Homo sapiens: one gene and its partners. The protein of the gene in region 1 purifies or fractionates together with the protein of each later gene. This does not show direct contact. Each region holds a gene or a part of one and is shown on either strand. Other genes may lie near its edges.

Evidence for each region.
Region 2: the proteins of GCGR (region 1) and GPR89A purify together in Homo sapiens (affinity purification with mass spectrometry, with the first as the bait; one large-scale study listed by BioGRID). This does not show direct contact.
Region 3: the proteins of GCGR (region 1) and RNF170 purify together in Homo sapiens (affinity purification with mass spectrometry; one large-scale study listed by BioGRID and IntAct). This does not show direct contact.

The regions. Positions count from the first base shown.
Region 1 is NC_000017.11:81,810,638-81,814,289, forward strand, and holds the end of GCGR (glucagon receptor precursor), read left to right. Parts: intron 1-187; coding exon 188-295; intron 296-372; coding exon 373-494; intron 495-584; coding exon 585-691; intron 692-766; coding exon 767-923; intron 924-1,013; coding exon 1,014-1,173; intron 1,174-1,248; coding exon 1,249-1,309; intron 1,310-1,545; coding exon 1,546-1,615; intron 1,616-1,939; coding exon 1,940-2,028; intron 2,029-2,169; coding exon 2,170-2,308; intron 2,309-2,378; coding exon 2,379-2,420; intron 2,421-2,836; coding exon 2,837-3,052; 3' UTR 3,053-3,371; downstream 3,372-3,652.
Region 2 is NC_000001.11:145,621,420-145,625,071, forward strand, and holds part of GPR89A (Golgi pH regulator A), read left to right. Parts: intron 1-1,634; coding exon 1,635-1,741; intron 1,742-2,173; exon of another isoform or gene 2,174-2,193; coding exon 2,194-2,295; intron 2,296-3,652. UniProt on the Homo sapiens protein: Voltage-gated channel that enables the transfer of anions such as iodide, chloride, bromide and fluoride which may function in counter-ion conductance and participates in Golgi acidification.
Region 3 is NC_000008.11:42,868,994-42,872,645, reverse strand, and holds part of RNF170 (E3 ubiquitin-protein ligase RNF170), read left to right. Parts: intron 1-2,533; coding exon 2,534-2,642; intron 2,643-3,652. UniProt on the Homo sapiens protein: E3 ubiquitin-protein ligase that plays an essential role in stimulus-induced inositol 1,4,5-trisphosphate receptor type 1 (ITPR1) ubiquitination and degradation via the endoplasmic reticulum-associated degradation (ERAD) pathway.

The DNA of each region.
Region 1 (3,652 bases):
AGGTGAGGAAGGTGGAGGTCAGATGGGGGAGGTGGAGGTCAAGTGGGGGAGGGAGCAGCCCAGGCCATGTCCTGGGCGAGGTGACGGCCGAGCTCAGGCTTCCAGAGAGAGGAGAGAGGCCTGCTGAGGGAGCCCCTTCTCCCACCCTGCCCTGCCCTGCTCTGCCCTGCCCTACCCTACCCTGCAGAGCTGGTGTGCAACAGAACCTTCGACAAGTATTCCTGCTGGCCGGACACCCCCGCCAATACCACGGCCAACATCTCCTGCCCCTGGTACCTGCCTTGGCACCACAAAGGTACCCATAGAGGGGAGGAACTGTGGGGGGGGCGGGCCCAGGGTGGGGCTGACCCCAGCCTCCCCCCACACCCCCAGTGCAACACCGCTTCGTGTTCAAGAGATGCGGGCCCGACGGTCAGTGGGTGCGTGGACCCCGGGGGCAGCCTTGGCGTGATGCCTCCCAGTGCCAGATGGATGGCGAGGAGATTGAGGTCCAGGTCAGTGGGCGGCAGGCAGGCGCGGTGGGGCTGGATGGGAACGGGCATGGGGGCCCCTGCCTGGCCCTCACAGGCCACTGTAACTCGCAGAAGGAGGTGGCCAAGATGTACAGCAGCTTCCAGGTGATGTACACAGTGGGCTACAGCCTGTCCCTGGGGGCCCTGCTCCTCGCCTTGGCCATCCTGGGGGGCCTCAGGTAGGATTCCGCCAGCGCCCGGGGCGGCCGCAGAGGACAGGGAGGAGGACGGGCGCTGACTGGCTGTGCCCACAGCAAGCTGCACTGCACCCGCAATGCCATCCACGCGAATCTGTTTGCGTCCTTCGTGCTGAAAGCCAGCTCCGTGCTGGTCATTGATGGGCTGCTCAGGACCCGCTACAGCCAGAAAATTGGCGACGACCTCAGTGTCAGCACCTGGCTCAGTGATGGAGTGAGCCCCCCTCGGCGGCCCCAGGCAGGTGGGTGGGTGGGCAGCCAGGCAGGTGGCCACGTAGCCGCGCTCACACTGCACCTGTACCAGGCGGTGGCTGGCTGCCGTGTGGCCGCGGTGTTCATGCAATATGGCATCGTGGCCAACTACTGCTGGCTGCTGGTGGAGGGCCTGTACCTGCACAACCTGCTGGGCCTGGCCACCCTCCCCGAGAGGAGCTTCTTCAGCCTCTACCTGGGCATCGGCTGGGGTGAGTGGGCTGGCATGAGAGGGGGTTAAGGCAGGCTGACCAAGCCTTTGGGACCACAGCTGCTGCCCCCCACAGGTGCCCCCATGCTGTTCGTCGTCCCCTGGGCAGTGGTCAAGTGTCTGTTCGAGAACGTCCAGTGAGTATGAGCGGCTGGACAGCCTGGGGAGGGACCGGGGGGCTGGGGTGCGGCGCTCTGGCCTGAGGCAGGGAGGGGCCGGGGATGAGCCTGGTGCCTGGGGAGGGGGTCATTTGTGACCTTCTCCCTTCCTTTTCTGAGACCCGAATTAGATCCTGGCAAAATCGGGACGGGGGTGCTGAGGGGCGGAGGGGCTGGGGGCTGTGCCCCAGTATGTGAGTGGCCTGGCCTCGCAGGTGCTGGACCAGCAATGACAACATGGGCTTCTGGTGGATCCTGCGGTTCCCCGTCTTCCTGGCCATCCTGGTGAGGAAATGAAGAGCCAGGAGCGCACCCCAGGCCCCTCCTCCCTTGGCGTCCTGAGGCTGCCCCAGGAGACAGCAGCATCCTGTCTGAGAGCGCTGGGAGGGAGCCGGCACCCAGACAGGACACCAGGACACTGGCCAGCACCCTGGACACTGAGCCAGGCTGTTCCTCCCTGGCTGTGTGCCCACCAGCCCCAGGGCTATGTGGCCCAGGGCCTATCTTGCTGCCAGGCCCACCTGCAGGAGGGTCAGGTGGGGCCTTCCAAGGGCACAGAGCTGTTCCCTGGGGCTCGGGATGCCCCTGACTCGCACCCTTCTCACACAGATCAACTTCTTCATCTTCGTCCGCATCGTTCAGCTGCTCGTGGCCAAGCTGCGGGCACGGCAGATGCACCACACAGACTACAAGTTCCGGTGGGTGCCGCGGCAGCTGGCGTCTCGAGACCTGGAGACCCTCAGGGCCAGAGGGCAGCTGGGGGTGGGGACTCCAAGCTCCACGTGGATGGTGCGGGCCGAGGGTGGGGGCGGTGGGTGACTCAGGCGCTGCCTCTGCAGGCTGGCCAAGTCCACGCTGACCCTCATCCCTCTGCTGGGCGTCCACGAAGTGGTCTTCGCCTTCGTGACGGACGAGCACGCCCAGGGCACCCTGCGCTCCGCCAAGCTCTTCTTCGACCTCTTCCTCAGCTCCTTCCAGGTGCCCGCCCGCCCGCCGGCTCCCCCGCCCGGGGCGCAGTGTGCCACCCCTGACCACCCTGTCTCTCCAGGGCCTGCTGGTGGCTGTCCTCTACTGCTTCCTCAACAAGGAGGTAGGTGGGAGTGGGGGCATCTGAGACCATCAGCACTGGCCGTCGGGGTCAGGGGCAGAGAGAGGCACAGGGATGCCAGCCCCACCCCTGCCCGGGGGTTGGAACACGTGGGGCCCAAGCCTTTCCCTCCCCCTGCTCTTATTGGGTGCAGTTGCCATGGCGCTGGGTGTCAGGCCCCCAGGACAGGTTGGCCTCAGCCCCATCGCTACGGTGTCCACCGTGGGGGTCCCCAGGTGTCTGCAGACTGCTTTCCGTGGCGATGCTGGGTGGCATAGCTGTGCCCAGCAGGGAGCTTGTGTCGCTCTGCACCCCTCAGAGCGGAGACTGGGCATCTCCGATGAGGCCCACAGCAGGTCCCGGTGGGGTGGAGAGGACAGGCAGGCCCTAGGACTGGCCTGCCCCGTCCCCCTCCCCAGGTGCAGTCGGAGCTGCGGCGGCGTTGGCACCGCTGGCGCCTGGGCAAAGTGCTATGGGAGGAGCGGAACACCAGCAACCACAGGGCCTCATCTTCGCCCGGCCACGGCCCTCCCAGCAAGGAGCTGCAGTTTGGGAGGGGTGGTGGCAGCCAGGATTCATCTGCGGAGACCCCCTTGGCTGGTGGCCTCCCTAGATTGGCTGAGAGCCCCTTCTGAACCCTGCTGGGACCCCAGCTAGGGCTGGACTCTGGCACCCAGAGGGCGTCGCTGGACAACCCAGAACTGGACGCCCAGCTGAGGCTGGGGGCGGGGGAGCCAACAGCAGCCCCCACCTACCCCCCACCCCCAGTGTGGCTGTCTGCGAGATTGGGCCTCCTCTCCCTGCACCTGCCTTGTCCCTGGTGCAGAGGTGAGCAGAGGAGTCCAGGGCGGGAGTGGGGGCTGTGCCGTGAACTGCGTGCCAGTGTCCCCACGTATGTCGGCACGTCCCATGTGCATGGAAATGTCCTCCAACAATAAAGAGCTCAAGTGGTCACCGTGCATGTCCTGGAAAGCAGGGCTGGAAATGCTGGGGCCGAAGCAGTGGGGGATGGAACAGCGGTGGGTGGTCAGCGCCAGTGCGGGCTGTTGAAGGGTCCCCCTGCTGTCCCAGTTCACTCAGAGTTGGCACTGGAACCCCGGAGGATCCCGAAGGCAGCCAGCCTGTGCCCATCTGAGCAGGTCCTGGCCACCTTCCCATCCTGGTTCTGGCGGGCAGTCCCCCTGGACGCTTTGGCCACCAGAGGGTCACCATTCACCAGCAGAGACGTGAGGGGC
Region 2 (3,652 bases), on another chromosome or scaffold:
ATAGCAACTTTCTAGAATTCTGTTTTATAATAGCCATCAGGCTTGGCCCAATATTTTACCTGTTACCATTGTTGTTCATATTTCCTTATAGTTCATTTCATCATCCTGTATTTTATTTATCTTTGTAAGCCATTTAACCACTTAGGCCTTTTTTGAAACAAGGCTTAAGTAAGTTTAAAATCAGTAAATACAAAGGACACCATCAAGAAAGTGAACCAACATTCCAAAAACAAGAGAAAATTTTTATAAATTACCTATCTGATAATGGACTGGGACTCGTATCTAGAATATATAAAGAATTCTTATAGTTTAATCATATAATACAATTAAAAAATGAATAAAGGATCTGAATAGGCATTTCTCCAGAGATGATATACAAATGGCCAGTAAGCACATATGAATAGATGCCCAATACCATTAGCCATCAAGGAAATGCAAATCAAAACCACAATGAGATACCACTTCACACCAACTAAAATGGCTATAACCAAAAAAAAAACAGAAAATAACAAGTGTTGGCGAGGCTGAGGAGAAACTGGAACTCTCATACACTCCTGAGGAAAATGTAAAATGATGCAGCCACATTGGGAAACAGTGGGAGTGCCTAAAAGATTAAATATAGATTTATCATATGACCCAACAATTCCACTCCATTTCTACCTAAAGAGAAATGAAAACATACGTCCACACCAGAATGTATACACACACATTCCTAGCGTCTCTATTTATAATAGCTAAAAACAACCCAAATGTCCTCAATTAATGAATGCAGAAACAAAATATAATATATCCATATAATGGGATGAATATTGTTCAACCATAAAAGGAATTATTGATAGATACTACAACATGGATGAACCTTGCAAACATTATGGTAAGTAAAAGAAGCCAGTCACAAAAGATTACATATTGGTGGTTTCCTAGAAACAGAAAGTATATTGGTGGTTTCCTAGAGCTGAGGAGATTGGGGAGAAACAGGGAGTGACTGCTAATGGGTACAGGGTTTCTTTATGGCGTAATGAAAATGTTCTAAAATTGATTTAGGTGATGGTTGCACAACTCTTGAGTATACAAAAACCATTGAATTGTACACTTTAAATGGGTAAATTATATCTCATTAAAACTGTTATAAAAAGTGCTAACAAAAAGTTTTAATAAATGAAGTACATCTTATAAACTAATAAAAGTAATTCATGCAAATCAGGTGTTTATATCAAGAGTACAAAAGAAATATTTTTGAGTATAACATATATTACTGTTAACATTTATTTTCCTTTAATTCTTACATTGGAATGAGATTCCTAGGGGTGGGTAAAACAATAGTCATTCTACCAGCAATGGCATATGTTGATACATGTTAATGGTATATGTTGCCTATGAATATATCAAAAACATAAACATTCTTATTTTAATATATGAAATTCTTAAGATGTTAAGATGGTCATATATACCTTTCAAAAATTTGTATTTTTTAATCTCTACAAATGAGTAGATTTTAAGAGCCTAGTAGGCTGATTAGATAGGATATATTCAATATTGAGTCCAAAGAGCAAAAGGACCCTTTGGAAGACTAAAGAGAAAGAAAGTTGCTGCCCTCTCTTCCTCCCAGTGACAGTCTTTGACATTTATTTCAGCTCCCGTTATTTTCACTGGAAAATGAACCTGTGTGTAATTCTGCTGATCCTGGTTTTCATGGTGCCTTTTTACATTGGCTATTTTATTGTGAGCAATATCCGACTACGTAAGTATTTTACCCTCTCAGTCAGCATATAGATTGAGATGAGTATTTGAGGGGACTTAAATTGTGGATAGCTTCATTTCTACATTAACTTTCAGTATCTACCGCTATTTGAGGATACCTCACACACAACATCTTAAAAATAAATATAAAATAAATATTGAATGAATTGGCACAAAATAAATATTGAATGAATGATTAGGTTATTTGTTCTGCCACAGCTTTATTTTTCTACCTATTAATAATGTCTCCTTTAGTTCATCCCACACCTTAAATTCAGCTAAATTTCTCTTACGATGGTAAGGATGCTTTCACTAAAAATTATGCTGTTCATCAGTCATTTGCCAAGTGAATTAGCAGCCAAATATTAGTTAGCATTATCTTATATTTTTAAATAGAGCAAGCTCTTTAACCTATATCTGTTTTTCCTAACAGTTTTGTCTCCTCTGTCTCAGTGCATAAACAACGACTGCTTTTTTCCTGTCTCTTATGGCTGACCTTTATGTATTTCTTCTGGAAACTAGGAGATCCCTTTCCCATTCTCAGCCCAAAACATGGTGAGTATATATAGGAGGGCAGAGGAAGTGGGGGGAGACGATTTGTTTAATTTTCTGATTTCAAAAACAATTAATTAAATTTCTTGGGGAAAAAATGTATTTGGGGAAATAATTTATTAATTCACAGGTTCTTGGGATTTGGAAAAAAATTTTTCTGATTGAGGAGGATAGCAAGCTATTTCTCTGAAAAATGTCTGATTTTGAACCACATTTTCTCCTTCATTCTAAGAGATAACTAATGCTGGTTTTGGACCTCACTTCTGTCATTCTAGAGTAGGAATTTTTGACCTTCATTTACTGAATATACTTAAAGGGTATAAGGAAAGAGAACGGTGTCTAACTCATATTGTATATGGAACTACAGGAATATATTTGTATGTGTATTTGGAGGTAAGGTATCAATAAACTTTTATCAGATTTGGGTAGCAGATTTGGGTCTGTGACCCAAAAGGTAAACGGCCACTGCTTAAGTGATGATAAAGATACATTAGGGAAGCATATGTATTTGAGGAAAGGTGACATAAAACACCCACAATTAGTAGATAAAGAAAAGCTTTCCAAGAATCGGTGTCTCCCCTCTAACAAAAAAAGTTTATTTTAAAACAAGAAATTTGGCAGAGCCCTAATTTTTAAGCTAAAAACAATGAACAAAAGTACCTCAGCTAACAAGTCCTTCCAGAACTATTTCAGAAGTATGTATGAATCTATCTAAAAAGATTAGAGAATCTATCTAAAAAGATTAGAGAGCCCATCTGTAATAAATATACTACAGGTTTCATGCTGGAACCTTTTTAAAAAAATCTATATATATATACCTCTTTATTCACCATCCTGCCGTACCTATTACTAGGCTTCTTATTGCAGAAAACAGAATCTACTGTAACTAATTTAAAGCAGAAAGTGATTAATTATACAGTATCAGGCAATTTATAGACTTTCTAGGAAAGTAGGGATGCAAAGCTTAACTGCTATATAGTGAAGAGAAATACCCAACTATGCCACAATACTAAACTAGAAAACCTCACTGAAGTTATCACCTGCCACTCAGGGTCTATGACATCAGGGACCTCAGTCCCAGCTGTTTGAGCTCCTAAGTGCTATCACCACCCCTACATTGTTCATTTCTGCATCTGAGGCCTCACATGGGCCGGGTTTTTTGGTGAAACCTAGGTAATATTTAAAACCTTGGCCTCAAGGAAGTCTGAGAAGGGGCTTTTGGCTTTCTAAACTCTGTAGTACCAAAACAAATGCTGGAAAAGGATATTGGAATTAATGTTGAATGAGCCAGTGTCTATTATAGAATCTGCCATACCTCCCACACACCCTTCCATGTATACTGATTGCCTATAGCAGGAAT
Region 3 (3,652 bases), on another chromosome or scaffold:
TATGGTAAAACCCCATCTCTACTAAAAATACAAAAATTGGCCGGGCATGGTGGCGCACACCTGTTGTCCCAGCTACTTGGGAGGCTGAGGCAGGAGAATCACTTGAACCCGGGAGGCGGAGGTTGTAGTGAGCTGAGATTGCGCCACTGCACTCCAGCCTGGTGACAGAGAGTGAGACTCCGTCTAAAAAAGACAGAATAGTTTAAGCCTATTAGTAGTACTGTGTTCCATAACAATTGTTACCCATAATTCATGTTGAGATAGTGTTTTATAATTTACAAAGTGATTTCCCAAACAACAATTGTATTTAATCTTTAGACATAAGTAAGGCAACTACTATTATTCTCATTAACATATGAGACTGCTAAGATTTGCTAACACTCACACTAGCAATTTCATGACTGGGTTCAGCTATGGAGGGGCCCCAGATTGAGGAGAATCTTCCAGGTCTCCTTGCAGCAGTGTCCACTCAACTGCCTCACCTCTTCCTGAGGCCCAGCACACAGCTCTCAGAGTGAAAATAAGGCTGGCGATGTAGTCTGTTCTGTGCTGTCCAGTATGGCAGCTACCAGCCACCTGTGGCTATTCAAGTGAGTTAAAATTAAACACAATCTGAAATTAAGTCTTTTAGTCACACTGGCCACATTTCAAGTACACAATGGCCACATGTGGCTCCTGGCTACTGTATTGGATAGCACTGATAAAGATTTCAATTATTGCAGAAAGTTCTGTTGGACAGCACCGTTAATTGTTTTTTGTCAATTTCTTTAAAAATTAATAAGGAGAAGGCTGGGTGCAGTGGCTCACGCCTGTAATCCCAGCACTTTGGGAGGCTGAGGCGGGCAGATCACCTGAGGTCAGGAGCTCAAGACCACCCTGGGCAACATGGCGAAACCCCATCTCTACTAAAAACACAACTTTAGCCAGGTGCTTGTAATCCCAGCTACTCCAGAGGCTGAAGCAGGAGAATCACTTGAACCCAGGAGGCAGAGGTTTCAGTGAGCTGAGATTGTGCCACTGCACTCCAGCCTGGGTGACAGAGCGAGACTCTGTCTCAAAAAAAAAAAAAAGTAGAGAAGGGAACATAAAGTGCTGTACACTTTTTGTAGCATTAGAACTGACATAAGTGACTATAACATCAAGGTGTAGCCTTGGATCACAGAATATTCTGGTGATTTAGGACTGTTTTGGAAGTATGAAATTTTAGTTATATTTATTATTATTTAAATTTATTAAATTTGTTTATGAATATTGAGTGGCAAAAATCTGATTCACTTAAGAACAGTTCCTATTTAGTAAACTTAATACTTTTTTCTGTAATTAGATATTTTTCATGCTAGCAACTTTATCTGTGCTGGGTTCCATTAAAACAAGTTTTGATAAATAAGTTTTACAATACAATAACATAAAATATATGTTATGTAGACACTTTTTTTTTTTGAGACAGGGTCTCTGTTGCCCAGGCAGGAGTATAGCGGTGTGATCTCGGCTCATTGCAGTCTTTACCTCTTGAGTTCAAGTGATTCTCCCACCTCACCCTCCCGAGTAGCTGGGACTACAGGTGTGCGCCACCATGCCCAGCTAATTTTTGTATTTTGTGGTAGAGACAGGGTTTCACCATGTTGACCAGGCTGGTCTCGAACTCCTGACCTCAAGTGATCCACCCACCTCAGCCACCCAAAGTGCTGGGGTTACAGGTGTGAGCCACCGTGCCCGGCCATGTAGACACTTTTCTAGGTCCTGAGGTACAATGAGTCCTACAGATAAATCCCTTGCCCTCATGATCCATCCTAGTGAGGTCTTTGATATCTAGATGTTTCTTGCATATGTGCAACACTTTTAAAATGAAAAAGATGTTGAAAATGAAAAAAGTGAAGACTTAGAAAACAGTTTGACATTTGATATTTTTTTCTTTTTGAGACAGGGTCTCGCTCTGTCACCTAGGCTGGAGTGCAGTGGTGCAGTCACGGCTCACTCCAGCTTCAACCTCCCAGGCTCAGGTGACCTCCCACCTCAGTCTCCCAAGTAGCTGGGACTACAGGCGCATGCCACCACCACTCCTGGCTAATTTTTCTATTTTTTGTAGAGATGGGGTTTTGCCATGTTGCCCAGGCTCGTCTGGAACTCCTAGGCTCAAGTGATCCACTTGCCTCGGCCTCCCAAAGTGCTGGGATTACAGGCGTGAGTCACTGCACCTGACCTCGACATTTATTATTGTTAGCTTATGCACTAGCTCAGCCTTGTGTTACTCAGAATAATTTACTTATTCCAGTAGAGTAAAAGATGAACTCTTGAGTTAATCTAAGTTTTTGTCTTTAAATTGTGTTTAGGAAGGAAAGTGGAAACCATGCAGCTTAAATAAAAACAATATAGCCTCATAACATTCTTAAAATTATAACCTTAAACTATTGCACGTTTACAGTTTGATGAGGGTTACACACTGCTGACTCTGTTCTCAAATATAATTTAACATGAGATACTGTTGAGGGCCACATGTGTTGTGTTCCAATGTGTGCACCTGTGTTCTTATTAGGATGCACCTGCTGCCACTCGACAGCAGTTCTACACTGACATGTACTGTCCCATCTGCCTGCACCAAGCCTCCTTCCCGGTGGAGACCAACTGTGGACATCTTTTTTGTGGTAAGCAAACAACGCTATACTTGGGAAAAGTGACTGTGTAGACCAAGACCTCTATGTGTACAAAGGCTGGATTCCCAATTTTCTCTTTGTCACATTTTGTATTTTGTGAGTAGGGTAGATTACCTCTGATATCCTGCTCTACTTGTCAACCAAGTATACTTAGCATCTAAATAATATACTTACTTATTTATTTTCTATTTAGTGTGTCCATGTAGCAGCTATGGGTTCAGAGGTTAAAGAAACTATTCAGCTTCCCCATAAACAGAAATGTGTTTGTTTGGACAGTAGTTCAAGTAGATCCATAGCATGAGGGATTCACTGAGTCCCTCTTTGTTCATCACTTTTTGGGACTTTCATTTATTATTCATCCTTGCCAGGGCAGGAAGGTTCTTCTCTCAAGAACCTGCCCAAGACCCTGCCTTAGTCCTCCTGCCTCTTTTGACTCTGAGTTTGTACTAAAAGTCTTAAAGGTCTTAGTCTCAGTCTGTTTGTCTCTGTCTCTGTCTCTCTCAACCTCTTGAGGTTTAATGAAGGAGAATGAGAATCCTAGAGCATACCTTGGGGTAAGAAGGGAATAATTTCACACTTACTTAGTATCAGGAAGGAGTGCTTTCCACCACTTATTTTTCCTGAATCTGCAGATTCAGGAAAATCTTCTATGGCTTCTTACGCCATAGAAGATTGAGGGGCAAAGTATCAGTTATTACATGCCTATGTATTGGACATTAATGTACTTCATCTAACCCCACCTATGAGGAAACAGGCTTTAGAGATGTGAAGAAATTTTACAAAGAGGCCAGGCGCTGTGGCTCACGCCTGTAATCTCAGCACTTTGGGAGGCTAAGGCAGGAGGATTGCTTGAGCCCAGGAGTTGGAGGCCAGCCTGGGCAACATAAGGAGACCCTGTCTCCACAAAAAATAAGAAATTAGCCAGGCGCAATAGCTCACATGTGCAATCCCAGCTACTGGGGAGGCTGAGGAAGGAGAATCGCTTGAGCCCAGGAGCTTGA